Homo sapiens: one gene and its partners. The protein of the gene in region 1 purifies or fractionates together with the protein of each later gene. This does not show direct contact. Each region holds a gene or a part of one and is shown on either strand. Other genes may lie near its edges.

Region 1 (6,330 bases):
TTCCCACTGTGCAGTTGATTGTATTAGTTTTTTGTCTCTGTGACCTCGATGGATGATTTGATGGTGACTGCGGTCAGGGGCTCCGGAGCCTCTGGGTCTGCAGCTGTCTTCTCAGCCAGGCACTCTCTCGTACTGACGGGGGTCCTCCGTGTGCAGGGCCGAGGAAACCACCGTGGCCAAAGTGGACCACCAGCTGAGCGTGGCTGGGATGCTAGCAGCCCCCAACCCTGCCGGCCTGGGATGACGGCGGCCTGGGATGACGGCAGCCTGGGGAGAGAGGGCACTCTGATTTCTCCTCCTGACGGTGGGCCTGGATGGGCTGGAGAGGACTTGGGCCTCGGCCCAGAAGCTACTCCAGGTGTCACAGAGACCACATTCAAGGTTGGAGGCCGCCCCAGGCTGCCCATGTGAAGCTAGGGGTGCTGACCAGAGGCCGGCTCCTGGACGTGAGTCCTGGACACCAGGACAGTGGCCTAGAGCCTGCACAGAGGCAGCTGGATGAGGCTGTGGGGCGCGTCCTGCACAAGGAGGACCCCGGGTTAACGCGCCAGTGCGGCAGGAGGAAGGGCTTGAGGTGTGGGTGTGGGGTGAGTGAGGGGCAGGTGTGAGGGGTGGGTGAGGAGCCTGCACATAAGGCCCCGCCTTTGCTCCCCACCTGTGTCGCAGGAGGCAATGAAGTGCAGTGTGTGGCGCCCTAGCGGCTCCCCAGGCAGTGGCTGAGGGCCAGTGCCTCTGTTTCCCCCGGGAATGGGCGAATGGTGGCTCCTGTCCCCACGTGCAGCATGGGAGCTGCGCTGGCTGGGGAAGGTCTGGAGAGTCCAGCTGGGTCTCCCCCGGGGCCTCTGAGAACGAGGAGGAGGCACCTTGTAAGACGGGGCAGGGAGGGGAAGCGCTCAGGCTGCTGAGTGAGGCAGCCTTGTGCTCAGCTTGCTGGTCCCGGTGTGCCCTGGGGTCGGCCTCGGAGGCCTCGGGAGGCGGTGTCGCTGGAGTGGGGGTCGGGGGCATGGGGGGCCATCCTGAGGCTCCTGAAGGGCCCCTGGGTCTGGCCTCCACCTGGACAGGTGGATGTGCTTCTTCTCAAGGGTGGGAGGCCCCCAGGGCTCCTTTCAGGGCTGGGGTGAGGAAGTGCTCCCTTCCCCACCTTCAAGGCCACAGCTGCAGAGCCCCAGGCGGAGGCTTGGGGAGGGTCCGAAGTGTCAGCCATCTCCCTCCCTGGCTCCTGCTGGCTGAGGAATAAATGCAGAAGTCAGAAAAGGAAGCACAGAAGCCTTTATTTCTGGTACGGCTGGGTGGGGGACTGGTCTCCTCCCGTCCTCTGCCGGGCTGCCTGGGGGTTGGGGGCCTGCTGGTGGGTGGGCCGGCACTGACAGGAGAGGGCCGCGTGCCCAGGCCCATCCCACAGAAAAGCCCTCCTTGGCCATGGTCGGGAGATGCAGCCAAAGGACAGTCAGGCTTCCTCCCGGTGGCGGCGTGGGCTGGGCAGGGAAGGCTTCCCGGAGGAGGCATCATTGTCCACTGAGAAGCACCGTGGGGCCTGGCCACTGCCTGTGTGTCTGCTTGGAGCTGGGCACGGCTGGGCCCTTCAAACTCTGCTGCAGCCGTGGGAGGACAGCAGGGTGAGGGGTGTGGCAGGGTGGGGGGCATGGTGGGGCAGGGAAGGTGCTGGGGGGACCACAGGCGGGACGTGCAGGGGCCCACTGGGTCACTGGTACTGGTTGGGGGAGGACAGCGTGTTGCAGCGGCTGTGCGACATGTCCTCGTACACCACACATGCCGCCGAATTCTTATCCCGCCACGAGCACAGTTTCTTTATCTGAAAGACAGAACCGCCGTCTCCAACCAGTGGCCAGCGTGGTGTCCTGGACCCCACCCCACTCCGGTCAGCTTTCTAATTTTAACACGAGACCCCCACGGGGCTCCTCTGGGCTGGCCCCCAGGTCTCCTGAGCCCCAGGGCTTCCCAGCAGAGCCTTCCCCAGGCAGGGCTGGGTCGGACCCTGGGGTGCCTCTGAAGAAGGAGAGTGGAAGTGGCTTGGACCCCCCCACCAAGCCCAAGCCAAGCGGGACCCCCACTCCAGCCCCAGACAAACAGCAGGGACCGAGGGGAGTGGCCACGCCTAGACTCTGTGTCTGTCTGAGGCCCCCTCCCCTTCCCACGGCCACACAGCACGCCGGCACACTCCAACATGCACGCACAGTCCTCAGAGATCCCCACACACAGGCTCACACCTGCACACGTGCACACGCGGGCCCAGCGCCTGGGCGCTCCCTCCTCTGCCCGCACACTCCAACCTGCACGCACAGACCTCAGAGATCCCCCCTCAGACACTCACACCTGCACACGCGCACACGCGCACACGCGGGCCCAGCGCCTGGGCTGCTCCCTCCCCCTCAGGTCGCTTTGGTGCTGGTCCCCCTCCCTCCCCGCCGAGGCCACTTCCACCCTGAGAGTTCCAGAGCCTGCAGAGGAGGCGGCGGGTACCAGGGTTTTCCTCTGGGGCTTTGGCGCCCCCCACGCTGCTCTCAGGAGAGGGAACAATCTTTGGGGTGCAGGTGGCAGCTGGGGCTCACACTGACCTGTGTCCTCGCCAGCACACACGCCACCCCCAGGCCCAGCCCGAGGAGGAAGGAGATCACCGCCAGGGCCGCAGGGAGGGCAGAGGCTGCTGGCGGGTCAGGGAGGGCAGAGGCTGTCTGCGGGTCAGGGAGGGCGGAGCCTGTCGGTGGGGCAGGGAGGGCAGAGGCCCTTGGTGGGGCGTCCGAGCATCTGTGCCATCCTTGGGACTGTTCCTCTGAGAAGGAAAAAAGAAGGAAGGGATTCTCCCGGTGGAGAACCTGTTAGAGCCCCCGGGGTTTGGGATTCGGGGCAGGGAAAGGCTGTGGAGGGGAGGAGGGGCAGCTATCTAGGAGGCTGCTGGGGGCAGTGGGCTGGGAGCTGGAACAGTTCAGGCACATGTAGGAGGGAGGGTCCCACGACAAGGGCTGGGGGAGCAGAGCCTGGCCAGCAGCTGGGGTTGGGAGGGGGGTCTGGGATGGGCACATTCCCTACCTGTCACCAGGACCAGGGTGCCGGAGCCGTAGACATTGACCTCCGTGATGGCCTGGCAGGTGTAGGTGCCAGTGTCCGACAGCTGCAGGCGGTGCATGGTGATAGTCAGGTTGTCCTGGGACCCTGAGAAGTCGATGCGGCCCCGGAACCGTCTGTCCGTAGTGGGCACCACCCCGTCCTCGTAGTAAATGATGTCTTGGGGCTGTGGCCCGAGCTGCCTCAGGTAGATCCCACGCAGGCCCCCGCTGGTGGAGCAGGTGATGTTGACGGAGGCTCCCACGGGGACAGTCGTGCAGTGGGGAGACTGCTGCACCTCTGGGGAGGACCTGGGCTGTCACCATCAGTCTGGCCAGAAGGACAGAGAATGTCCTCCCTGCAGGGGACAGTGGTGGGGATGGTGGGGCCCTGAGACAGCCCAGGGCTGACATGTCGCCAAAGACACGGTGCCTTACGGGGCATGGAGCAGATCTGGGCACCGGCTGTGGTGTTGGGGGAGGTGCTGTCCTCGTGTTCCGAGACTGTGGGCTTCTTCCTCCCAAAGCAGCGGCCCTGCCTGGACAGCCCCGGCCACTCCCCACCGGGGTCCACCCTTTTTCCTTCTCTTAAATGAGTCCTCAGACACTGGAGGCCGCTCAGCACCCCACCCGCTTCCTGGGGGCTGTGCTGTGGCTCAGACTGGGGGCTCTGAGCTCATGGGGCAGGGAGAGCTCTGGAGCTGTGGCCATGGAGAGCCTGGGAAGCTCTTACCTTGGGCAGCCAGGGCCCCAGGCAGGCCGCGAGCCAGCGCCAGAAGCAGGGGCAGCAGCAGGAGCCTCGGAGGCCCGGCCATGTTCCCCACACCCAGCTCTCCCAGCCGGGCGAGTGCAGCTGAGCCTCTCTGGGTCTACAGGACCCCACAGAGAGCAGCACACAGGAGACCGCAGGCGCTCAGAGCTCAGAGAGGGCTTCCTGGAGGCGGTGCCTCAGACCAGGGTGGTGCTGTGGGCCCGGTGGGAGGGGCGGTCTCACCTACCCCTCCCCAGCACTGCCTCCCTGAGAGCTGCCCTGAGAGCAGGGCGTCCCTGTATCCCCCACTGCCCCTGCATCTCCACAGGGAGGAGGTCAAGGCCTGGGGCGGGGCAGACCAGAGGACAGAGAAGGGACTCCCTGGCTGGGGACGGGTGGCAGGGTCTGGAAGTGAGCGGCAGAGCTGGCCCCCAGCCTGCCTGGTCCTCTGGGGTACTTTCTGCTGGGACCCAATTTATGCCCAGAAATCTGGAGCCACCCATGACCCATGAGTCACCCACACAGTGCAGAGGAGCACAGGGCAGGCCAGAATTGGCACCCCCTGGTTTGGCCGTGGGGAAGGAGCCTGGGCCTGCACCCGCACCCAACGCTGCAGCCGACCAGCTGACCGTGGCTCTGCGTTCCATGTCCTGGAGGCGGGAGGTCTGAGGTATGGTCCAGGCCTGAGGTTTCCCGACCTCCCTGGGAGGAGTGCGTCAGGCCGCAGTGCCCAGCTTCAGGGGCTGAGGGAGACCTGTGCCTGGGCTCTGACCCCAGGGTGACTGAGTCCTCTGGGAGGGGGCACTTCTCTGTCCTGAGGGCCTCCCGCCACAATGACGAAGCGTTGACGTTGGTGCCCAAAGCCAGTAGGTGCAGCACATGAGCAGGAGTGTGTGGACACGTGTGTGTGCAGAGACGGGTGCGTATGGACATGTGTGTGCAGAGACGGGTGCGTGTGGACACGTGTGTGTGCAGAGACGGGTGCGTGTGGACACGTGTGTGTGCAGAGACGGATGCGTGTGGACACGTGCGTGTGCAGAGGCGGGTGCGTGTGGACGTGTGTGTGCAGAGACGTGTGCGTGTGGACGTGCGTGTACAGAGACGGCTGTGTGTGGACACTTGTGTGTGCAGAGACGGGTGCGTGTGACTCCATGCGTGTGTGCAGAGACGGGTGCGTGTGGACACGTGTGTGCAGAGACGGGTGTGTGTGGACACGCATGTGCAGAGATGGGTGCGTGTGGACACGTGCGTGTGCAGAGACGTGTGCGTGTGGATGTGCGTGTGCAGAGACGGGTGTGTGTGGACACGTGTGTGCAGAGACGGGTGCACTTGACTCCATGCGTGTGTGCAGAGACGGGTGCGTGTGGACACGCGTGTGTGCAGAGACGGGTGTGTGTGGACACGCATGTGCAGAGACGGGTGCGTGTGAACACGTGTGTGTGCAGATGGGTGCGCATGACTCCACGCGTGTGTGCAGAGACGGATGTGTGTGGACACGCGTGTGTGCAGAGACGGGTGTGTGTGGACACGCATGTGCAGAGACGGGTGTGTGTGGACACTTTGTGCAGAGACGGGTGCGCGTGACTCCATGCGTGTGTGCAGAGACGGGTGCGTGTGGACACGCGGGTGTGCAGAGACGGGTGCGTGTGGACACGTGCGTGTGTAGAGACGTGTGCGTGTGGACGTGCGTGTGCAGAGACGGGTGTGTGGACACTTGTGTGTGCAGAGACGGGTGCGCGTGACTCCATGCATGTGTGCAGAGACGGGTGCATGTGGACACGCGTGTGTGCAGAGATGGATGTGTGTGGACACGCATGTGCAGAGACGGGTGCGTGTGGACACGTGTGTGTGCAGAGATGGGTGCGCATGACTCCACGCGTGTGTGCAGAGACGGGTGCGCGTGATTCCACGCATGTGTGTGCAGAGACGGGTGCGTGTGGACACGCGTGTGTGCAGAGACGGGTGCGCATGGCTCCACGCATGTGCAGAGACGGGTGTGCGTGACTCCACACGTGTTTGCAGAGACGGGTGCATGTGAACACGTGTGTGTGCAGAGACGGGTGTGCGTGACTCGCGTGTGTGCAGAGACGGGTGCGCGTGACTCCACACATGTATGCAGAGACGGGTGTGCATGACCACGCGTGTGTACAGAGATAGGAGCGTGTGGACATGTGTGTGTGCAGAGAGGGGTGCGTGTGGACACGTGTGTGTGCAGAGACGGGAGCGCGTGGACATGCGTGTGCAGAGACGGGAATGTGTGGACACTCGTGTGCAGACAGGTGTGTGTGGACACGCGTGTGTGAGGAGACGGGTGCGCGTGACTCCACGCATGTGTGCAGAGGGGTGCGTGTGGACACACGTGTGTGCAGAGACGGGTGCGCGTCACTCCATGCGTGTGTGCAGAGACGGGTGCGCGACTCCATGCGTGTGTGCAGAAACGGGTGCATGTGGACACGTGTGTGTGCAGAGAAGGGTGCACGTGACTCACGCGTGTGTGCAGAGATGTGTGCCCGTGAC
Region 2 (5,368 bases), on another chromosome or scaffold:
AGGCTGAGGCAGGAGAATGGCGTGAACCCGGGAGGCGGAGCTTGCACTGAGCCGAGATCGCGCCACTGCACCCCAGCCTGGGCGACACAGCGAGACTCCGTCTCAAAAACAACAACAAAAAAGTGTACATGTAAAACAGTACCTGGCAAACAGACCTCAAAATATTCTGTTAATAGCTGTTATAATACTAGCAAGTATATATTTTAGTCTATTTAAAAACTTTTTTTTTTTTTTTTTTTTTTTTTGAGACAGAGTCTTGCTGTCTCCCAGGCTGGAGTTCAGTGGCACAATCTCGGCTCACTGCAAGCTCTGCCTCCCGGGTTCTTGCTATTCTCCTGCCTCAGCCTCCCCAGTAGCTGGGACTACAGGTGCCTGCCACCACGCCCTGCTAATTTTTTGTATTTTTAGTGGAGACGGGGTTTCACCGTGTTAGCCAGGATGGTCTCGATCTCCTGACCTCGTGATCCGCCCACCTCGGCCTCCCAAAGTGCTGGGAATACAGGCGTGAGCCACCGCGCCCGGCCGTTTAAAAACCTTTTAAAAGGGTTGTATTTTGGGCCCTAATGACACATACAATTCTTTATTTTCCTGTGCAAATCATAAACTGTAGTGGTTCTACTTTCAATAGGTTTTGAATTTTGGGAGGGAATTTTACCCTCTCAAAATACCAAATTACTTTGGTTTAGTTTCTCATGAAAAAGAAAATACAGTTGGAATTCCCACAGGATTAGTATAGAGTTCAATTTAGATCACAGTGCAGGCTGGCCTTAGGTTGAGGGTTTTGATGTTTCCATGTTTTGTATTTTTTTCTCTAAACATACTCTTGTAGACACATCTGAAACAAAACAGCCTAATTAAAATGTTAAATAATCTAGTTATGTCAAAATGTACTGAAAATATATATCACTAAGGAATATAACTTTCCAAATTTTGTTTTACCAAACATATTAATGTTAATATGTTAATAAACAGTATATTAATAGTTCTTTTTAAACTGAAACCGATTATAAAATGATTAAGTTATTATAGTTTGGTTTTATAAAACCAAAAAATGAATAGTTCTCTTTAAAGTGAAACCGATTATAAAATGATTAAGAGTTATTATAGTTAGGTTTTGTACGACCAAAAAGAAATCCTAAAAACTAACAGGCGGCCGGGCACGGTGGCTCACGCCTGTAATCCCAACACTTTGGGAGGCAGAGGCGGGTGGATCACGAGGTCAGGAGATCGAGACCATCCTGGCTAACATGGTGAAACCCCGTCTCTACTAAAAATACAAAAAATTAGCTGGGCGTGGTGGCGGGAGCCTGTAGTCCCAGCTACTCGGGAGGCTGAGGCAGGAGAATGGCGTGAACCTGGGAGGCGGAGCTTGCAGTGAGCGGATCTCCAGCCTGGGCGACAGATCGAGACTCCGTCTCAAAAAAAAAAAAAAAAAAAAACTAACAGGCACACTGAATGAGTAACAAATTCTGTTCAAAAACATAGGCATAAAAAATATATCAGATTATATAGTTTAGTTCTTAGCACATGAGGTAAAGAAGAATTTATGTTCAACAAACATTTATTTCTCAAGGGAAAAAAAATCCCAAACTAATAAATGAGTTGCCTTTATTTACATATGACATTTATTAAGGGAAAAAGTATCCTGAGGGACCAGGACCATCTTAATGTGCCAGGGAAATCAGACAGATGAAATACAATATAACGAATAAAAATTTTCTTTTTGCATAAAGCCAAGTCTAAGGATGCAAGTAAACTTACATGCAAATATAAAGGCTGTCAGACTAATCTATATAAATGGCTTCCAAAGTTCCATTTCAGAGAAAGAAATGAAGGATTTAGGGGAGACAATCTTTGAATCAACATTTTACCTTCGATTCTTTGCTTCACTGACTTCTGACAGTTTGGCAAATTGGGGTTCATCACATTTAAAAGAAATGCTGCCAAAGCTTGACAAATGCAGTCTAAGAAGATAATACAAATTCTAAATGCCTATGCAGTTTTCTGTAGTTCCCAGCATTCTTCCTCAAAAAGTTACGAGACTTAAAACTTAGGCACTCTTTAGATGGTTATCATTTTAGCAAAAATCATTACCTAAATTATGAGATAAGGTAACACTGAAAGCCATATACCAAAAACTCAAGCCTTATGACATTTTGTTATTCACTTTGCACTATGTGTGTGTGTGTAGGAGGATGTATGCAGGGATTACCTTTGCTTTTGAAAAAATTTGAAAATTTTTCCGTCTGATCTTATCTCACAGGTTCTTTAGTGTATGTTCAGGAACTTACCTCTTTGGAGTTGGATACTATAGGCCCCCAGGATACTCCACTTAAAAACAGATCACCGGAGCAGTGGCTCACACCTGTAATCCCAGCACTTTGGGAAGCCGAGGAGGGCGGATCACCTGAGGTCGGCAGTTCAAGACCAGCCTGACCAACATGGAGAAACCTTGTCTAAACCAGAAATACAAAATTAGCCGGGTGTGGTGGCGCATGCCTGTAATCCCAGCTACTCAGGAGGCAGGAGAATCACTTGAATCGGGAGGTGAAGGTTGCGGTGAGCTGCAATTGTGCCAGTGCACTCCAGCCTGGGCAACAAGAACGAAACTCTGTCTCAAAAAAAAACAAAAAAAACAAAAACACTCCACCCCTCATCCTCCCACTGCCATGATGAAAACTGTGCCACCTTATATAGTTTGGGGACTGCTACTTACAGTGAATTAGAGATCCATTCTCAGCCAAAGCTAAAAGTAGGTACAGATGCTTTTTACTTATTATTGGGTTATGTGCCAATAAACCCATCATAAAAATTCTTAAGTGCAACCATTATAAGTCAGGGACCACTGTATACCTCACCTTTGATAAATCCTAGATTTTAGTTTTGGGCAAGAAGGAATCAATCATGGACCCTTGACTGCCCCTCCTCTGTCCAGTATTATTTTTGTAATTATTCTCCTGCAGAGAATATTTTCCTTAAAAATGATTTATATGCTTTAATACTCAAATGCTATATGCCAAAGTAGATACAAAGTAAGAAACATTAATTTGGTAAAATAACAAGAAACCTGAAAAACTAAATATAGCCTTATTTTTGGAGAAAGAGACCCAAATTCTCTTTTTGAGACAGGATCTCACTCTGTCATTCAGGCTGGAGTGGCATGATCATAGCTCATTGCAGCCTCGACCTCTGGGGCTCAAGTGATCCTCCCACCTCGGCCTCCCAAGTAGCTGTGACTACAGATGCTGATATGCTTTGGATCTTTGTCCCCACCAAATCTCATGTCGAATTGTAATCCCATGTTGGAGGTAGGGCCTGGTGGGAGATGACTGGATCACGGGGGTGGAGTTCTCATGAATACTTTAGCACCTTCCCCTCTTGGTACTGTATAGTGAGTTCTCATGAGATCTGGTTGTTTACAAGAGTGTGGCACCTACCCCCAATCCCCGCCTCTTGCTCTTCCTCTGGCTATGACTGCTTCCCCTTCGTATTCTGCCATGAATGAAGTTTCCCGAGGCCTCCCCAGAAGCAGAAGCTGCTATGTTTCCTGTTCAGTCTGCAGAACCATGAGCCAATTAAAGCTCTTTTTTTGATTACTCAGTCTCAGGTATTTCTTTATAGCAGTGTGAGAATGGACTAACACAGGTGAGCACCACCACACCCGGCTAACTTTTTTTAGTAGAGATGAGGTCTCGCTGTGTTGCCCAGGCTGGTCTTGACCTCCTGAGCTCAAGCAATCCTCCTGCCTCGGCCTCCCAAAGTGCTGGGATTACAGGCATAAGCCACCATATCCAGCCCAAATTCTCTGATTTGAAAATTCAGTGACTCTAGAAAAATTTCCTGATTCCACATAAATACTCAAATTCCTTGATATGTTGTACTCCTTTATGTCTTATTTTACATAAACAAACTTTATGTAAGTTTATCAGTGCAAAACAGAATTAGAAAAGATGGCAACATAAACCTTCAATTATTATTTAAGAATGGTATGACCTCAACCAAAATCAGATTTAAAAAGAAATATCAGAATTTTTTTTTTTTTTATTAGGGAATCCTAAAAAAAAAAAATTACCATTTGGAATACCTGCTGCACATTAACTTTGAGGGTCGTCTTGGGAAAAAAAATGAGTAATTATTCTTGTCTGGCTTTGTGAAATTTTTCAGAGTAATATCACTAGGAGGAAACTGGATATAATTTGGTACTTTCTCATATGGCAATGACATGAAGTAATAAATGGCAAGTGGGAAAGGGGAAGGAAGAAGAAAAAAGTATAGAATAAATCATAACAGGTAAAAAAAAAGTTTTTTTTGTAAAGAAGGGATAAGGAATTTGAAACTGTAAGAATAGAGTATCAAATTATATATATATATAACAATTTTCTATCTTAAAAATAAAACTGGAATGTTATTTCACTTAAAATGTACAGCATGCAAAATACTCTGTAATAGTAAAAAAAAAAAAAAGAAAAATACACCAACGTAAAGTCTCACAATTTTCCAGTAAATGAGATTTCTGGGTCAAAAATCACCATTACAAACCCTTTAACCAAGGATTTATTTTTTGTTTCCAGCATTACAATTTGCAATAATTCATAGATTTCCATTCCAGTAAGTTTTAAGACACAGATCTCACACAGGCAGTTGGGTCCACATGTTAAGAACTCATTAATTCAGCAAAGAGATCACCCAGCCGCCATTCTCATATGAACAATGCTCACTGCTACCTGAACATTTTAAAGTATGTTATGAGTTGTTTTGATGATGACAGCTGCAGCTTTTCACCACATTTTCAATTACTGAATTGCATGTTTTTTTTCCACCTTGATAACTTAGGGTCAGTAGAAAGCTATTTACTTACATGTTATAGTCAATATAACTATACTAAATGCCCATTTGTAACTGAAGAAACTCACAGACACAGTATGAACTATATTATACAAAATCATGACCATGAGTTTCAGTGAGAGATTCTGTCTCTCTCTTAAAGCAAGAAATATCCCACAGCTCAGATTTACATAAGTAGTGCCGCCTTTTAAATAAAAGTCAAATGCTGTCCTGCCTGTAAAATTATAAATATTTCTAACCCACTTTACAGAATTTTAAAATGCTTATAAATGCATTATCTTCCAGTAAATAAACATTATGGTACTGAACCTCATTTAAAAAAAAGTCATCACACTGGCCCATGGAAATATCTAGGACTATATCTCCTAACATTAGAAAAATTAAACCAAATAAGGGGAAAAAAGCAAAGAAGAAAAAAGAAATTTTACAAAATGGCAACTACTATGACCTAAAAGAGTGTACTGAGATGTCTTCATTCAATTCAGTAACTAAACATTTCTGGAATGAACATTTGTAGATAACT
Region 3 (5,652 bases), on another chromosome or scaffold:
GATGACATCCCCTGGGTAAAAGGTAACAAACCTGGATCAAAGCAGAAGGACCCGGTGAGACCAGGGGCTGGCTGAGGTGGCCACAGCCAAAGATGGAGGGCTCAGGTCAGCCTCCACATGTGTGGCAGGTGAAGCGGGGCTGGCAGGACAGCCCCTGTCACTCACTGGGAGACCCAGGCTATCAGGTCCTCTGTCTTGAATACCATCTGGTTGGTGTTGCCGCTCTGGACCACTTCCCCATTCACTCGGCAGCAGATCTTTAAGTTGTGTGGATCTGAAATGCAAAGATGGTACCTTGGAGTTATCCCTTTTCCCCCTCAAACCCCCCAATATTTTACAAACACAACTGTAGGGGTGCTTCGTGACTTGGCAGGTGAAAGGGCTTCAAAGTGCCCACATTGACTCAGTGCTCTATGTTAGAACTTTCTGTATAGACATTGGCCTTCTCAGGCCTCCCCGCATCCCCACCAAGAGCACCAAGCAGTAGTAACAGGGATGGGTTGAGAGGATGTTTCAGACTCTGAAGGGGAAGAGAAAAATGGCTAGGGTTTTTGCCTTGAAAAAAATAAGGGCATCTGTCTACAGCATAGGATGACACCTGTAGATTGACTCAGCAGGGCCAAGCGTGGTGGCTCATGTCTGTAATCATAGCACTTTGGGAGGCCAAGGCAGGCGAGAACTGATTAAGCTCAGGAGTTCAAAATCAGCCTGGGTAACTTAGTGAGTGCTTGTCTCTACAAAAAATAATAAAAACATTAGTCAGGCGTGGTGGTGCGTGCCTGTAGTCCCAGCTACTCAGGAGGCTGAGGCGGGAGAACTGCTTGAACTCAGGAGGTTGAGGCTTCAGTGAGCTGGGATTGGGCCACTGCACTCCAGCCTGGGTGACACAGTAAGACCATGGCAAAAAAAAGACTCAGCATCTATAAAGCAGTGAGGCAATGGTTCTAGCCGGGACAGAGAAGCCTCGTGTACTGGATGCTGGCAGGGGATGGATTACTGTAAGAACATCCTGGCTAACCAGCACTTTTTACTGTTGGTGGTGGTCCTAGTGTTCTACCCCCCTTAAGTAGAGCAGCTGAAACACAATTTAACTTTGCTGAGGACTCTGCATGGGGTGCTGAGGCACTGGGGTCTTTGGTATCCTGGCATGGCTGGCCCATGTGGACACCCCCCACCTCCACCACAGTTGTGGGTGGCTGTGTAAGAGGCTGCGCTCTGCCCTCTGGGGCACTGCCCCCATCCTGGCGCTGTATCCTGACTGTGTGTGGTCAGTGCTGTTCTATTTCCACAGTGGCTGGGTGAGTCACACTGGCTTTCATCTCCTGTAGTGTGGAAAATGCCTTGGCCTTGGGATAACTATGCTCCATGATGCTCAACTTAGATTGTTTCAGAGGTGGCAGCCGCAGGAAGCCCGATCCACCCATCAGCTCAGTGTTCTTTGTAATTTACTTCACGCATGCAGTTTCACATCCTCTGCAGTTGTGTTCCCTCTAGGGGGCTTGGGAAGGAAGCCCATGGGAGAACTCGTGGCTGAGGATAAGAGACTTGCCCTGTATGGAGTCAGCAGTGAAAGGGCGGCCAGGGAGGGCAGGTGCCACATGTACCTGAACCCATGCTCCTCCCTGAAGCGCTGTTCATCTGTGCAATGGTAGGTATAAGGGGGCAGGGACCAGGGACCTACCTGCTACACTGTCCTTGGTCACCAAGGCAGGGCCCAGAGGGCAGAAGGTGTCGAAGGTTTTTCCCAGCAGCCATTGTTTCCCATTACGTCTCATTTGCCAGTCACGAGCACTCACGTCATGAGCCACAGTGAAGCCGGCCACGTGGGCCATAGCATCTGTGGCCTATGGGGGCAGGGGATTTGGCCATACAGGAGGTTAGATCATGGGTGACACCAACACCTATGGCAAGGGATCTCTAAGCTGTTATCCCATGTTAGTAGCCAGAGCCAGCCAAAGGTGGGTGAAGGGAAAGGCAGTGTCAGGGAGCAAGGAGGCTGACTGCTTCCTAGTGTCAGGGACAGCTGGCACCGTGTGTTGGTGAGTGGGGTCAGAACTAGGAGAGGCAGGAGCTGGGGCCTCTGCTGCACTCTGGACTGGGAGCCCACCCTTTCCACCTCACCTTGATGTGCTTGCCTTTCTTTCCAATGACCACGGCCAGCTCCACTTCCCAATCTACCTCCTGTAGGGTGGGAGAGGAACAGTGAGCTGCAGTGGCTTCAGGGCCCACTGTCCATGCTGAGAGGCTGCACACCATGCTGAAGGGCCTCAACCTTTGTCAGTATGGCTTCGCTGCCATCCCATGTTTGCCATCACCACGAACCAGAGCCCAGTGAATGACAAGGGAGGTGTGACTTGTAGACCCATACATTTTGGGCAGTGGCAGACAGCATCATGGGATGCAGGCACAGGTCCCCACACCACTGACTGCAGAAGAGCAACACGTGTCCAGGGCACTGAGTTTAAAAGTCACTCTGGATACTTTTAACAAAGGATAAATACGAAGTAATATCCCCTAGCAATATGTAACCCTACTGTGTGTCAGGCACTGTTCTAAGTGTTTTAATCTATTAACTCCCACAAAGGACTTGAGTAAGCAATTCACAAAAAGGTAACGGACATGGCCACAAAACATGAAGAAATGCTCAGCCTCTCCCATAATCCATAAAATACACTATAAAATAGATATAATTTGGCCTTTAAAATTGGTGGCTCTTTCTAATAATAACCAGAGTTGGTGTAAGTACACCCGACATCCAGATGTTGGTCTCTAATACCACTCCCCACTAAGGAGCACTGGGTTCCTTGGGGAAACGGCCAATTCCAGTTCCAAGACAGACAGTACATGATAAGCCTAGAACATCTTGGCCAGAAAGCTAGGATATACTAAAAGTGACGGGAATGGAGCCAACTTGAAGGCCCCTCACTGGCCAAACTGAGGTCACCTAAAGAATGTAAATGATGAATTACAAACAATTGAGTAAAAACAGAATTCACAGTGATATTGAAGACAGGAATAAAAAGGAGGGAGGCAGCTTTTCTTCATAGAAGAATGCCAGCCAATAAAAACAGAAGGCATGATTGAGAAGTCATTGATCTTGTCTGGGAGTGGTGGGTCACGTCTGTAATCCCAGCACTGTGGGAGGCCAAGTCAGGTGGATCACCTCAGGTGAGGAGTTCAAGACCAGCCTAGCCAACATGATGAAACCCCGTCTCTACTAAACATACAAAAATTAGCCAGGTGTGGTGGTACACGCCTATAATCCCAGCTACTCAGGAGGCTGAGGCAGGAGAATCACTTGAACCCAGGAGGCAGAGGTGTGCTGAAATTATGCCACTGCACTCCATCTGCACAATAGAGTGAGACTCTGTCTCAAAAAAAAAAAAGGTCATTGTTCTCTAACCCCCAGTGCAATAATAGATTCAGTCAGGATGACCACAGGATCCCTGGATGAGATGCTATGGGGCAATAAGATAGTTATGTGATCTCAAACTACCACCCATGGATTGCTTATTACAAAAATAGAAATGCATCTTCACAATGGAGGGACCTAGTGAATGTCAGCTAAACCAAGTGGTCAAATTCTGGGACCACTGACATGAGCCTCCCAGTGGGATACGATGGAAAATGTATAACATCTGCTTTGTAGATCTCTTGATAAAAATGCTTACCCTGACACTAATCATGAAGAAACAACCAGACAAACCCAGAATGTGAAACATGCTATGAGACAACTGGATTCTTCAAGGAAAGGGCAGGGGGTATTGTTTGAGAGCAGGAGTTGGCAAACTATGGCCAGCTCAACATCTGCTATAATCAACTTTGATTGGAAACCCATCATTCATTTCTGTATCGTGGTTTTCACACTATAACAGCAGAGTTGAATTGTTGCAAAACAGAACATATGACACGCAAAGCCTAATATTTACTAATTGGCCCTTGATATGGTTTAGCTCTGTGTCCCCACCCAAATCTCAACTTGTAGCTCCCATAATTCTAACGTGCTATGGGACGGACCCGGTGGGAGATGACTGAATCATGGGGGCAGGTCTTTCCCGTGCTGTTCTCATGATAGTGAATGGGTCTCATGAGATCTGATAGTTTTAAAAATGGGAGTTTCTCTGCACAAGCTCTTTTCTGCCTGCTGCTATCCACCTAAGATGTGACTTGCTCCTCCTTGCCTTCTGCCATGATTGTGAGGCTTCCCTAGCCACGTGGAACTGTAAGTCCAATTAAACCTCTTTTTTTTGTAAATTGCTCAGTCTCGGATATGTCTTTATCAGCAGCATGAAAACAGACTAATACAGCCCTTTAAGAAAAAGTCTATGGAACCCTGTCCTAGATTGAAACCACTAAAGAGATATAACTGAATACAGTGTGTGGCCTTGGTTGATCATGGAGCAACAAACGAAGTAACCAAATTAGAAGTTATCTTTGGGGAAGTCAGCAGTACTTCCGATTGGGAATTGGGGCAATTGGATTTCATATTAAATATTATTCAAGTTAATTTTTTTGGTTGTGATAATGGTGGGATGGTCATGCAAGCCATTGTCCTTATTCTTAGAAGATGCCTATTTACGTTTTTATGACTAAATTGTCTTAATATTTCCAATGTGTTTTAAAAGGTCCCCTCCACCCCATACCCTGCAAAAAAAAAAAAAAAAAAAAAAAATGTGTGTTTGCCATGTGGAGGGCAGGGAGAAGACAAGGGAGAAAAAGGATATATGGCCAAATGTTTACAATGAAACCAGGTGGAAAAGTTATCTGAGTGTTCACTGTATTATTTTCCCAGCTTTTCTATAATTTTCAAGACATTTCTAAAATAAAAATCTGAGAGAAAAAGTAACCAGTGTTAGAAAGGGTATATACACTACTGGTGGATGTGTAAGTTGCTTTTACAATTTTTTAAAAGGCCAATTGGCAGAATTTTTCAAAAATTTTGAAATACTGCCTATACGCTGACATATTTAAATTCCAAAGGGTTTATTCAAAGGAAATAATAATGTATTAATGGACATGCAAAGCCTTTTCCACATAAGGATGTTTACTGCAACATTTATTTATAGAAGCCAAAAACTAGAAACAGTATCCAGCAGTAAGGTACTCAGGAATAAACTAATCTACATAACAAACTCCGTGGTGTCAGGGCGAATACTTAATGGCATGAAAAAATGCTCCTGATGGAGTCTTAAGTAAAAGGTAAGTATATGTACAGTATAAACATATACAGGAGCGGAGAAACACTGGGAAGGTAGACAGAAAAACATTAATATTCCGAGCCATGGGCAGTGGGATTATGGGTGACATAATTTTTTAATGTTTATCTCTATTTTATTATCTACAGTGAAGGTGCATTGCTTTTGTAACCAGGAAAACACGTACATTAACTTTTTTTTTCCAAGGCCAGTGTTACTACTGTGTGTACAATCCTGTAGAGTTTCTGCTGAATGCGCTATTGAGCGAGAGGTGGCTCCAGTAGGCTCAATACTGAGCTCAGAATGCCCTTGTGATGGGCCCAGTGACTAGGGAGGGCAGTGGGGAGACACTGACCTGGCTCTGTGGTGGGAGGACCACCTCATCATAGGGCCCCACGATGGAGCTGGCAAACTTGCTGAAGATGATGGGCTCCTTGGGCACGGGCACGTTCTGTTC
Region 4 (5,652 bases), on another chromosome or scaffold:
AGAAACCCTGGCCTGGCATAGAGCAAGCACTCCATAAATATGAGCTATAAAATTCTATTTATGATTATAACAATAAACCAGTTGCAGTTTCTTTCTCTCAAGGATAAGCAGCACCTATGATTAAAATGATAAGAGATAAAAATGTATTACTTACTCCATTTCTTGTAATATTGGGTAACAGATCTGTTATTCTGGAGACAGGAAGAGTTTGAAGCTTGGTTGATTCTGGGGAACCCAGTAACTTTGTGAAATAAATAACATAGCAGAGCACCAGAACTGTGGTATAGAAAAGCTGAGAAAAAAAATAAACTGTTTTAATAAAGGCATAATTAAGATATGCCTATAAATTTGATCTCAAAGGCCAGTCAAGTAATAGAACTCTCTTGATTAACTGCACTTTCTATTCAGCAATGCCTTACCCTCTGGGAAATGGCACTAGTCACTTAGACCCAACTCCACTGCAGCATCTACCTGCAAAGTGTTCCCAACACTTCACTTAACTGGAAGAACATAATTCTTCTCGGCAGGCAGAATGTAATTTCCATAACAGATGTACACTAGCTCAATTACCACAGCCATGTCTGATACATTCTCAAAAGGTGTGTATTTGGCCAAAGGAACGGCTCTTCCACCTAGTCAGCACCCTGCAAAGATCTATGTATCCTAACTGTGTTAATATCCAAGGACTTGCCGTCATCAAGGACTGTGGGTTTTCTATAAACCCCGGAAACCTGTGCCATTAATGATTACAAAGCACAATTGAGCTGCTGGCTCTCTCCTCTTCGCCAGGGCAAGAGCTACTACAGATAGGGGAAGAAAGGGTAGGGTGATAAGAGGGCCCACCCCTCCCTCCACCCATCCAGGACAAAAGAATGGCTTCTGGCCAGGAGCAGCCAGATGGGTTTTGTCTGCAGATTGAGGAGGAAAGTCCAAAAAAGCCCCTTTTCACAAGCTCCCTTCGACCCTCTTTCCCTCCTGAGAACAGCAGTGCACACTGGTTCAAGAAAGACTGGCACCTCTAGACTTGCTTTCAACCTGGCAATATCAAGGCTGCTCCTGTAGTAAAGGCACAGGGCAAGGAAAAAGAAGAGTCTCACTTTAGTAGGTGTGGGCCCCTCTGCTCTCCACTCCCAACCATGCCTGAGACAAAGCCCATCATCCACCAGCCTTCTTTCTTCATGCTCCAAGCCCTTAAAGCTCCAGCGGCACTGCTGTGAGCCACCCACCTGATGCCAGTGTCCTCTGTGAGAAGTACCCTTTACATAAATCATTACTAAGAATCTTAATTTATCTTCCTAAACATTAATGAAAACTACAACTGCTTTGCACTGTAAAATGTTCTGGTAACTATCTGATCTTAAATTTCATTTTTAAAAATAGCACTTGTACTCTAGTTGTATTTTTATTAGAACCAGAAATATGAACTAGAACTAGGAAACAATGAGATGGAAATGAAGCCTAAATTGCTAAAACTGAACACATACCTACTCTGACTTGATTCATGCCCTCTGAATTATGTGAGATTTCAAACTAAGTTTAAAACAGGCTTGGCAGAGTTTCCACCTATTCTGCAAAAAAAAGATGGAAATCCAGGGAAAATAATACATATACAATTTGATTCCCACCCCACCCCCCACTGATTTTTTTCTCCTTTACAAGACTATCAGATGACCAAAGATCAGTTTGAAACAGGCTTGCCCACTGAATGTCTAAAAGGGGTTTTTGATGTTTGACAATGAAGTCCAGTGTGTGGCCCTCACCAGGTCCCTAGAAACACCTACGGTCTCAGTGTATGGAACACAATGGACCTGGCAGCTAGAGAAGCAGTGCTAAGGCCACCCTTCTGGTGCTTCCACCTCCTGCACAGGCATGGGTACTGTGAATGCAGACCACACGGCGGTGGGAACAAGAAGAAAAACCAGTTGGAGAAACAAAGATCATATAAAAAGTTAAAAGCCATGATTCTTACCTGGGCCAAAGAGAAAATGTACAATCCCCAGTGAGGCAACCACAGCACGAGAAAAGCTGTCAGAACGCTCTTAAGAATTACCGACAGGCTCTCTGCAATCACCTGCAAACATGTGGTTAAGGTGCAGTTTACAAACATCATCAAAAAGTCAAGATGTAATGGAATGATAGACAGAAAATCTAGGGCAGTGGTCACCCTGGCTGTGGGGGCAGGGCACACAGCTGGACATAAGTATCAGTAACGTTTTACTTCTTGGGTAGGGTGGTGGGTTCATGGATCTTTCAGTATATTATGCTTTAAGATTTACATTAAATATATATTCTTTTGTAATCTATTATAAAAGATGAAGAGAGAAAAGTTAATGTTAGTATACAACTAAATATAACCACTAGAAAAATCTGAAAAACCTTTACGGTCCTTCTAAATTCTGACTTGAACTAATAAATTATTAGCAAATCTGTTTTTTATTTATGGTGAAACAGAGGTGAACTTTAGCCTAGCCCATCTGACAAATTTCAAGTGTAAGAACTTAACTGACCATGTTATCTTTTTCTAAATACATTTTTAGGTGCAAGTCTGGAAAAATCATTCATTCTCTCCTATAAAAGCATTTTTAAAAAACAACGCTTTTTCTTATTCTTCCCATTTCCCATTCACAGCAGAAGGTGCACTGACCTTGAGCTTCACAAACATATGTGCTTGTGCCAAGACCCAAAAGGGCTCTCCTAGAAGCTCCACCACTGCCGAGAGACCAAACAGCACCACTCCAGTTGCATAGTGAGGGACAACATTAGGATCAGGCACTTCAAGCAGCTGCAACCAGATCCAGCCCAGGAATAAGGACCAAAACACACCCAGGGGGACTCTAGAAGAGGAGAAAAAAATAATTCACTAAATTTTAAAATAAATATAAATATATATTAAAATAGTAACACTGAACAGAAAAAAATAGTTATAATACAAACAGCTACCATTTATTTATAAGATACTAACTACATGCCAGGCACTATGATTCACGCCGCTTATCTCACTGACACCTCACAATGATCCTCTGTCATTATCTCCATTAAAAAAATGAAACTGAGGCTGACAGGCACTGGGCAATTTGGCCAAGGTCATGAACAGCTAATCAAGGGCAGAAGCAAGACCCAATCCTGCAATAACTCCAAAGCCTAAACTTCTATCCACTGGGTTACACATACTGACCCCATAAGCAAAATTCCCAGAAAGAAAATGCCTGTTGTTAGAATGACTGACAGACTGTATACAGCTGTTCCTTGCATCCCAAATAACCAACAGAGCAGTGCTCAGTATCCTTTCGCATGTTTCACATGTGTACCATGGGGCACTTAAATATGACTGGGTGGTTAACAGTTGTTCCTCTAATAAAATGAACACCTACCAGCCCTCATGACAGTCATTTCTGTGAGGCAATAAGGAGTTATGCAAGGGCAGCACTGGGAAATAACCTCAAACCCCAGCCCTCCCTGTGGGGACCTAGCTGGAGAAAAGCCATTGCAATTTTAAGCTAATGTATTTGATCTTCAAGAATATCCTAAAAGACTCAGAACTGAAGTCACATAACAAAACTGAAGAAAAATGTAATAAAACCCATAAAAGGCTTTCAAGAAATACTAAATCTAAGTGGCTGTTAAAAGCTCAAAAGATATTATAGAGCAAAAAGATTAGGAATAAAAAAGATGGCACAGGCCAAGTGGAGCCCACAGTGGTGGTCAGAAACAGCAAGAAACCACCTCCAAAGAGGATGAAACCAGGGCTAGAAACCTGGCCCAGAAACCCCAACCCAGAACCTCTTCCTGGCTCCTGGATATCCAGAGAGAAAATGAGCCAAGAAGTTCCTTTGACACAAACACTGTCCCCGTCTTGTTGTATGCCTGCTCCCAGAAACCCATGACGAAACTGAATCTGGGGGCAATTCAGCTTTAGGCACGTGTTACTGTTTCATTTCCAATGCTCACTACACCTGCCTTCCTGAAACGTGTCTCCTGCCAAAGCACAACTCACGTTAGCCACAGCAGGTTGAGGGTCTGGCTCCAGTCTCGCTGGGTGCCCCCACTGAGACATGCTCTGCGGAAGGCCTCTCTGGCCAGGAAGAGGGTGGTTGAGTAAAGCAGCGTTAGTCTGTAAATGAAAGGGAGAAATCAATAAGGTCTCAAGTTTTTTCATAGAGAGAACTTCTGGGATTTTTCCAGCAACAGGGAGGAGATAAAGTCTTGGTCATAAACCACTGGTGGTGATGTGGAAGGCAGTGGGCTCTTACAGGACCCCCTACCGGTCTGATCCATGAGAACTAATGAGTTAGGAACCAAATGAAAGACACCTGAGGGTGTGTGCCTACAGTTACGTGAAGGATAGAAACTGCTGCAGTGGCCTCAAAAGGCTTCAGCCTTCATGGCTACAGGCAGAGGTGTGGCCATGACCATAAGGAGGAGAAGAAGATAAGATTATAACCCCACCCTTCTTGGTCACACTGACACGAGTGACCGATGGCCCCTGTGAGAAAAGCTGAGCCTCTACCGAGTGGAGGCTCTGGCCAAAAGAATCTCAAGACAGGCAACAAGGCTGGCAACCATTACAGAGGCTGCTGCAACCCAGATCAGCAAGGCGTGCCTGGGTACCTCCCAGGTGGGCAGCACCTGGGTGAGCCTTCCTGCATCTTAGCGAGGAGTAGCTGAGATCTCCCCTCCTCAATAGACAGCCGTCTGGGTGAAGCCAGAGTAGGGACAGCCCAGGGTTAAGGTCTCTGGGGTTGTCCAAGGATTATCCTGCTACCCAGTGCCTCTGTGGAACACTGCAAATAAGGAGATGGAACCAAACCTTAAGCAGGGGAGCAGGGCAGGCCAGACAAGGGCTGTCAAAGCAGGACCTGCCAATCTCAGGAAGGCTGCCTGGGGAGAAAAATCTGAGCCCCTAGGAGGATTTGCCCCTCTTCCTTCCTGCTTTTAAAACAGTATTTCTTAGGGCCAAGTGCCTATATTTCTCAGGCTCATGCCTACAATCCCAGCACTTTGGGAGACTAAGATGGGAGGATCACTTGAGCCCAGGAGTTCGAGACCAGCCTGGGCAACACAGTAAGACCTCATCTCTACAAAAAATAAAAAAATTATTCAGGTGTGGCGGTGCACACCTGTAGGCCCAGCTGCTCAGGAGGCTCATACGGGAGCATCGCTTGAGCCCAAGAGGTCAAGGCTGCAGTGAGCCATGATGGCGCCACTGAACACCAGCCTGGGTGATAGGGCAAAAGCCTGTCGTCTCAAAAAAAGAAAAAGAAGAAGAAGGTGAAGAAGAGGAAAAGAAAACATATTTCTCAAAGAATGGTCCCTGTTTCAAAATCACCTAAGGAGCTTATAAAAATTCAGATTCCTGGGCCCCTGTTCAGCACTATGTAGTGCAAAACTCCACAGATGATTCCTTTGCTCAAAGCTTGAGTCCTGCCACTAAGCTCTGAGACCAGAGCCAAGAGTATATGTTTGGTAAGTATTAGACATGAAATGCTGTCTGGAACATATTGTCTTATTTATCAGGACATGAAGACACACCTGAGAAGCTGAGCTATTCTGAGCACTCACATCATTTCATATACTTTGTGTCATTTGTGAAGACAAAATATGCGTGGGTGTCCTTGAACAGAAAGGAGGCGAGTAGAAGAAACAAGCTGAGTC
Region 5 (5,652 bases), on another chromosome or scaffold:
TGGGAACCATCATTTCTAGAAGCAAAGAAATGTGAGTGCCCTGAGGTTTAAATGTCAGCCAGAGGCTTGCTTGCTTTCTCTTTCTTCCTTCCTTCCTTCCTTCCTTCCTTCCTTCCTTCCTTCCTTCCTTTCTTTCTTTCTTTTTCTTTCTTTCTTTCTTTCTTCCTTCCTTCCTTCCTTCCTTCCTTCCTTCCTTCCTTCCTTTCTTTCCTTTCTTTCTTTCTCTTTCTTTCTTTTTCTTTCTTTCTTTCATTCATTCTCTCTTTCTCGTCTTTCTTTCTTTCAGAGAAGGTCTCACTCTGACACCCAGGCTGGAGTGCAGTGGTGCAGTCTCACTGCTCACTGCAGCCTTGACATCCAGGGCTCAAGGTCCTCCCACTCAGCTTCCGAGTAGCTGGGACTACAGGCACGCACCACCACACCCGGCTAAAAATTATTTTTCATGGAGACAAGAGTCTCGCCATGTTGCCCTGGTTGGTCTCAGACTCCTGGCTTCAAGCAGTCATCCTCTTGCCTCAGCCTCCCAAAGTGCTGGGATTACAGGTGTGACCCACCATGCCTGTCCTTTTTTTGTGGGCAGAGGGTATTTTTAGTTTGTTGGCAAATGTAAGAAGGGGCTAAGATTATCTTTGATAGGTACAGGAGAAGGAGGAATATTTTTGTTTTTCTTTCATGACACTGTTAGAGCTGCATTGGAAGTGGGTTAGGTCAGCTGAGAAGTGAGCTGGTGCTTTGACAGATGGAAGTAATACGATCTCTTAATTCTACCTGGCAGGTAAAGTACTACCATCTCAGTACATAGGCCACAGAGAAGGACAGACCATAGGTATGTTACTTGGTGATTTAGGGATTCCAGTCTCTAAAATTTCCTGGCCACTATCCTTTCTCATAGGGGAAGTCCAAACACAGATGCCCTGACAAAACTTTTTGACGTACTCATACTGCTTCCAGTGAAGAAAATGTGATTTAGAACAAAGGGCACTTTCTAAATGCTTGCGGTGGGTTAGACTGGCCCACAGACTTACTGTAGTTGGAATTGTCATCTTTGGCTCTCCTCCAAATGTATTTACTTTATTAAACAAATACTTACATAGCATTTACTATATTCCTTTAAGTGCTTTACAAATAATAACTCACTTAATCTTTATAACCACCCTTGGAGGTAGGTACTGTTATTATCCCCGCAGGTGACAACACAAGCCCATGGTATAACAAATTTTTCCAAGGTCTCACACCTAGTAAGTGGTAGAGGCAGGATTGGGCCAAGGCGGGTTGGCTGTGGAGTTCATGTTCTCACCACTATCCTTTGCTCCCTCAGAGTCAGTCATCAGAATTTCCATATTCTGGACAGGTGCGGTGGCTCACGCCTGTACTCTCAGCACTTTGGGAGGCCGAGGCAGGCGCATCACTGGAGGTCAGGAGTTCGAGACCAGCCTGGTCAACATGGTGAAACCCCATCTCTACTAAAAATACAAAAATTAGCCGAGCACTGTGGCAGGCACTTGTAATCCCAGCTACTCGGGAGGCTGAAGCAGGAGAATTGCTTGAGCCTGGGAGGTGGAGGTTGCAGTGAGCCGAGATCGTACCACTGCACTCCAGCCTGGGCGACAGAGTGAGACTCCGTCTCAAAAACAAAACAAAAGAAAAGAATTTCTAAATTCTCTTCTCAGCTACTATATTGGTTAGTATTGAATTTGACTATATGTGACAGATATTTTAAAATAATGATGACTTGAAAAAAGGTTCATTTACACCTCATGTAAAAGAAGTCTATAGGCTAGCTGCTCAGGCATGCTCAGGGCTGGCATGACATTTCACTTTATTGGAGACATAGGGTTCTTCCTGCCAGCTGATCAGCCATCTTTAGGATATGGCTTCTACTACATGGTCCAAGATGGCCGCTCAAGCTGCAAACATCTTGTCTGCTTTTCAGCCATTTGGAAGAAGGAAAGGGAGAGGGTGAATATGCCCCCATCCTTTAAGGCACTTCGTAGAAGTTGTAGGAGACTCTTCTACTTACATTCCATTGTCTAAAACTTAGCTGTAGTAGTGGCTGGGAACTATAGTCTTTTTTCTTTTTTCGCCCAGGTAAAAATCATGGGTCTTGTGTCTAGGGAACAAGGGGGAACAGAGATTGGGAGAACCAGCACTTTCTGCGACAGCCACTTTTGGATCTTAGACAGTCTGAAAGATTCTTGAAGATAACAGCCCTGGTCCCATTTCTCAATTTTGGATGGTTTCTGTCTCAGTGGGGTCCAAGAACAGATGGAAAATGCTAGAAGTCATGGGGAGAGTATACACATACCCCCCTCACTTACCTCCTTGTGCTTCAGGTCTCATGCTCACTCAACTGCAAAAGGGTTTTTTGAGCTTTTTCTCTTTTGCGTGGAGTAATACTAGATTTTCACATTGCCAAGAATCATAGGACAGCATGTGACTCACTAGGTTAAGAGGATTAAATGACATATCACACATGAAAGCCCTGACGTAGTTCCTGGCACTTAGTTGGGGCAGCTCAATCAGATTTTTAAAAACATTCCTACTAACTGCTTAATTAGGGTTCTTGGGGTACATGGTATCGAATAAGGCTATAAGAGTTGGTAGATGGGGCGCAGTGGTTCACGCCTGTAATCCCAGCACTTTGGGAGGCTGAAGCGGGCGGATCACAAGGTCAGGAGATAGAGACCATCCTGGTTAACATGGTGAAACCCCATCTCTACTAGAAATACAAAAAATTAGCCGGGCGTGGTGGCGGGCACCTGTAGTCCCAGCTACTCGGGAGGCTGAGGTAGGAGAATGGCGTGAACCCGGGAGGCGGAGCTTGCAGTGAGCCAAGATCGTGCCACTGCTCTCCAGCCTGGGCGAGACAGCAAGACTCTATCTCAAAAAAAAAAAAAAAAAAAAGTTGGTAGATGATGCTTAAAATCTCGAGACCTACATGTATGACAAACTTGACTGCCTCTTAACGTTTTAGTAAAATAATTTTATTATATTTTATTATATATATATTTTTGAGACAGTTTCTCACCCTGTCGCCCAGGCTGGAGTGCAGTGGCACAACCTTGGCTCATTGCAGCCTTGGCCTCCCAGTGTTGGGATTACAGGTGTGAGCCACTGTGCCTGGATGGTTTTATATATTTCAACAAGCCCTTCCCTTCCTTTTGTAAGAATGAACTTGTAAATAAGGCTTCTCTACCTAAATAGCTAAATCAAGGACTACTATTTTCCTCCAACCTATACCATAGAATACAGCAGTTCTTAGAGTGTGGCCCAGGGATCTTGACCTCTGGGAGTTCCTTTTTGGGGTCCACAGGTCAAAATTATTTTCATCATAATTCTAAGACTTTATTTGCCTTTTTCATTCTCATTTACTTAGGAGTGGAGAGTGGAGATTTCCAGAGACTACATGATGTGTGATATTGAAACAGATTGAATACTAAGATATGAGATATAGCCTTTACCCACATTAACAAATGCTTTTTGGAGTCCTTAATAATTTTTTTTTTTTTTTTTGAGATGGAGCCTCACTCTGTCGCTCAGGCTAGATCAGGCATGATCTCGACTCACTGCAACCTCTGCCTCCTGGGTTCAAGCAATTCTCCTGCTTCAGCCTCCCAAGTAGCTGGGATTACAGGTGCGCCCACCACCATGCCCGGCTAATTTTCGTATTTTTAGTAGAGACAGGATTTCAGCATGTTGGCCAGGGTGGTCTCAAACTCCTGATCTCAGGTGATCCACCCGCTTTGGCCTCCCAAAGTACTGGGATTACAGGCATGAGCCACCACACCCAGCCTAATTTTTAAGAGTTTAAACTTTTTGAGACCAAAACGTTTGAGAACTATCCACTTAATGTTTATGAAACTTTAAAAGAAGACTTTTATAAAAGGTAATTTCTGTATATTTCACTGTGCGATGTGAATGATATGCTTGAACTGTCTTACATTTTAGGTTCTTGGAGAAAGGACCTCTTTTAGCATAGCATGACACCCTCCTCCTTGTCATTGCTGATTAGATATAGGAACCCCGCTGGGTTCCAGGTTCCAGTAATTTTTTGTTGTTGTTTGTTTTGAGAGGGGGGTCTAGCTCTGTTGCCCAGGCTGGAGTGCAGTGGTGTGATCTTGGCTCACTGCAACTTCCACCTCCTGGGTTCAAGCGATTCTCCCGCCTCAGCCTCCTGAGTAGCTGGTACTACAGGTGCATGCCACCATGCCCGGCTAATTTTTTCTATTTTTTTTTTTTGTAGAGATGGGGTTTCACCATGTTGGCCAGGCTGGTCTTGAACTCCTGACCTCAAATGATCCACCTGCCTTGGCCTCCCAAGTGCTGGGATTATAAGTGTGAGCCACTGCGCTGGGCTCAGGTTCCAGTAATTGGTTGTGGGTTCTGACACCAGCTGGTGCATGGCCTCTTGCTTTCTTGTGTGATTTGGTTTTTATTCCCAACTTCATGGACTGCTACTGCTTAAGCTATCTGTACCTCACCCCTCCTTTGTTAAAAGGGGAGATTAGTAAATGGGTGTTAAGAAAAGTTGTTTTTATAATATTGGCATCAAACTGAAGCTCTCTCCTAGATATAATAAAGGAATTGAAAATCTATTAAGAGAAAAAAAACACAAAATATTAAAGAAGAGAGTGGATGGTGAGGAAAAATTAGGCAGTAGTCATTTTCTTTTCCAGCTAAATACTGGTGGGTGTCTTTCCAATTTGAGTGGTTTTAGAGTTTGTTCTCCATGAATGAGAAGAGTATTCTTGATTATTCAGTAGCATAGTTGATTTTATGAAGTGAACATTGGAAATTAGGCCAGAGGGTATTTTACCTCTCTGTCTAGGAAAGCCACCAAATGCCTGCAGAATGCTTGCACATCGTTCTCCACAGGCTAGGTCCTGAGCAAATGCTAACATAATTGAATTGAACTGAGGCTTACACTTAGTCCTGAAAGGCACTTGTCTCCCCTTCTGTCTGAATGCCCTTTTGTTCCTCCATTCTTCATACTCTAACATTCCCTCATTGATCTAGTCCAGGCAGTATTCTTTAATAAAACCCCTGTACTATTGCATAACCATAATTACTCATGCTTTTGGAGTCATTGAAATGCTTCTTATTCTCCTTATGGTAGAAGGAAATCAAGATGTTTGAGAGGTCAGTCTTTAAATGACACTTGACTGCAATCTTGGCCTTCAAGTTCTGCTTGCTTTTTTTTTGTTGTTGTTGTTTAATTTTTCTTTTTTAGAGATGGGGTCTTGCTCTGTCACCCAGGCTACAGTGCAGTGGCATGCTTCTAGCTCACTGCAGCCTTGATCTCCTAGGCACAAGGGATTCTCCCCGCCGAGTAGCTGGGACTACAGGTGCATACCACCACACTTAGCTAATTTTTTTTTTTTTTTTTTTTGAGATGCTATTTCGCTCATTGCCCAGGCTGGAGTGCAATGGCATGATCTCGGCTCACTGCGACCTCCACCTCCCAGGTTCAAGCGATTCTCCTGCCTCGCCTCCCGAGTAGCTGGGACTACAGGCATGTGCCACCATGCCTGGCTAATTTTGTATTTTTAGTAGAGATGGGGTTTCTCCATGTTGGTCAGGCTGGTCTCGAACTCCTGACCTCAGGTGATCCACCCTCCTTGGCCTCCCAAAGTGCTGGGATTACAGGCATGA

What was found.
Region 2: the proteins of CD7 (region 1) and SLC30A9 purify together in Homo sapiens (affinity purification with mass spectrometry; one large-scale study listed by BioGRID and IntAct). This does not show direct contact.
Region 3: the proteins of CD7 (region 1) and FAHD2A purify together in Homo sapiens (affinity purification with mass spectrometry; one large-scale study listed by BioGRID and IntAct). This does not show direct contact.
Region 4: the proteins of CD7 (region 1) and RFT1 purify together in Homo sapiens (affinity purification with mass spectrometry; one large-scale study listed by BioGRID and IntAct). This does not show direct contact.
Region 5: the proteins of CD7 (region 1) and PI4K2A purify together in Homo sapiens (affinity purification with western blotting, with the first as the bait; one study listed by BioGRID). This does not show direct contact.

What each region holds. Positions count from the first base shown.
Region 1 is NC_000017.11:82,313,619-82,319,948, forward strand, and holds CD7 (T-cell antigen CD7 precursor), read right to left. Parts: upstream 3,991-6,330; 5' UTR 3,878-3,990; coding exon 3,796-3,877; intron 3,364-3,795; coding exon 3,049-3,363; intron 2,792-3,048; coding exon 2,577-2,791; intron 1,814-2,576; coding exon 1,703-1,813; 3' UTR 1,255-1,702; downstream 1-1,254. UniProt on the Homo sapiens protein: Transmembrane glycoprotein expressed by T-cells and natural killer (NK) cells and their precursors. Plays a costimulatory role in T-cell activation upon binding to its ligand K12/SECTM1. In turn, mediates the production of cytokines such as IL-2.
Region 2 is NC_000004.12:42,086,692-42,092,059, reverse strand, and holds the end of SLC30A9 (proton-coupled zinc antiporter SLC30A9, mitochondrial), read right to left. Parts: 3' UTR 1,599-5,368; downstream 1-1,598. UniProt on the Homo sapiens protein: Mitochondrial proton-coupled zinc ion antiporter mediating the export of zinc from the mitochondria and involved in zinc homeostasis, zinc mobilization as well as mitochondrial morphology and health.
Region 3 is NC_000002.12:95,407,056-95,412,707, reverse strand, and holds part of FAHD2A (oxaloacetate tautomerase FAHD2A, mitochondrial), read right to left. Parts: coding exon 5,551-5,652; intron 2,182-5,550; coding exon 2,122-2,181; intron 1,845-2,121; coding exon 1,682-1,844; intron 275-1,681; coding exon 166-274; exon of another isoform or gene 32-165; coding exon 1-31. UniProt on the Homo sapiens protein: Tautomerase that converts enol-oxaloacetate, a strong inhibitor of succinate dehydrogenase, to the physiological keto form of oxaloacetate. It is thereby required to maximize aerobic respiration efficiency by preventing succinate dehydrogenase inhibition.
Region 4 is NC_000003.12:53,119,730-53,125,381, forward strand, and holds part of RFT1 (man(5)GlcNAc(2)-PP-dolichol translocation protein RFT1), read right to left. Parts: intron 4,112-5,652; coding exon 3,995-4,111; intron 2,835-3,994; coding exon 2,645-2,834; intron 2,072-2,644; coding exon 1,970-2,071; intron 293-1,969; coding exon 155-292; intron 1-154.
Region 5 is NC_000010.11:97,642,724-97,648,375, forward strand, and holds part of PI4K2A (phosphatidylinositol 4-kinase type 2-alpha), read left to right. Parts: intron 1-5,652. UniProt on the Homo sapiens protein: Membrane-bound phosphatidylinositol-4 kinase (PI4-kinase) that catalyzes the phosphorylation of phosphatidylinositol (PI) to phosphatidylinositol 4-phosphate (PI4P), a lipid that plays important roles in endocytosis, Golgi function, protein sorting and membrane trafficking and is required for prolonged survival of neurons.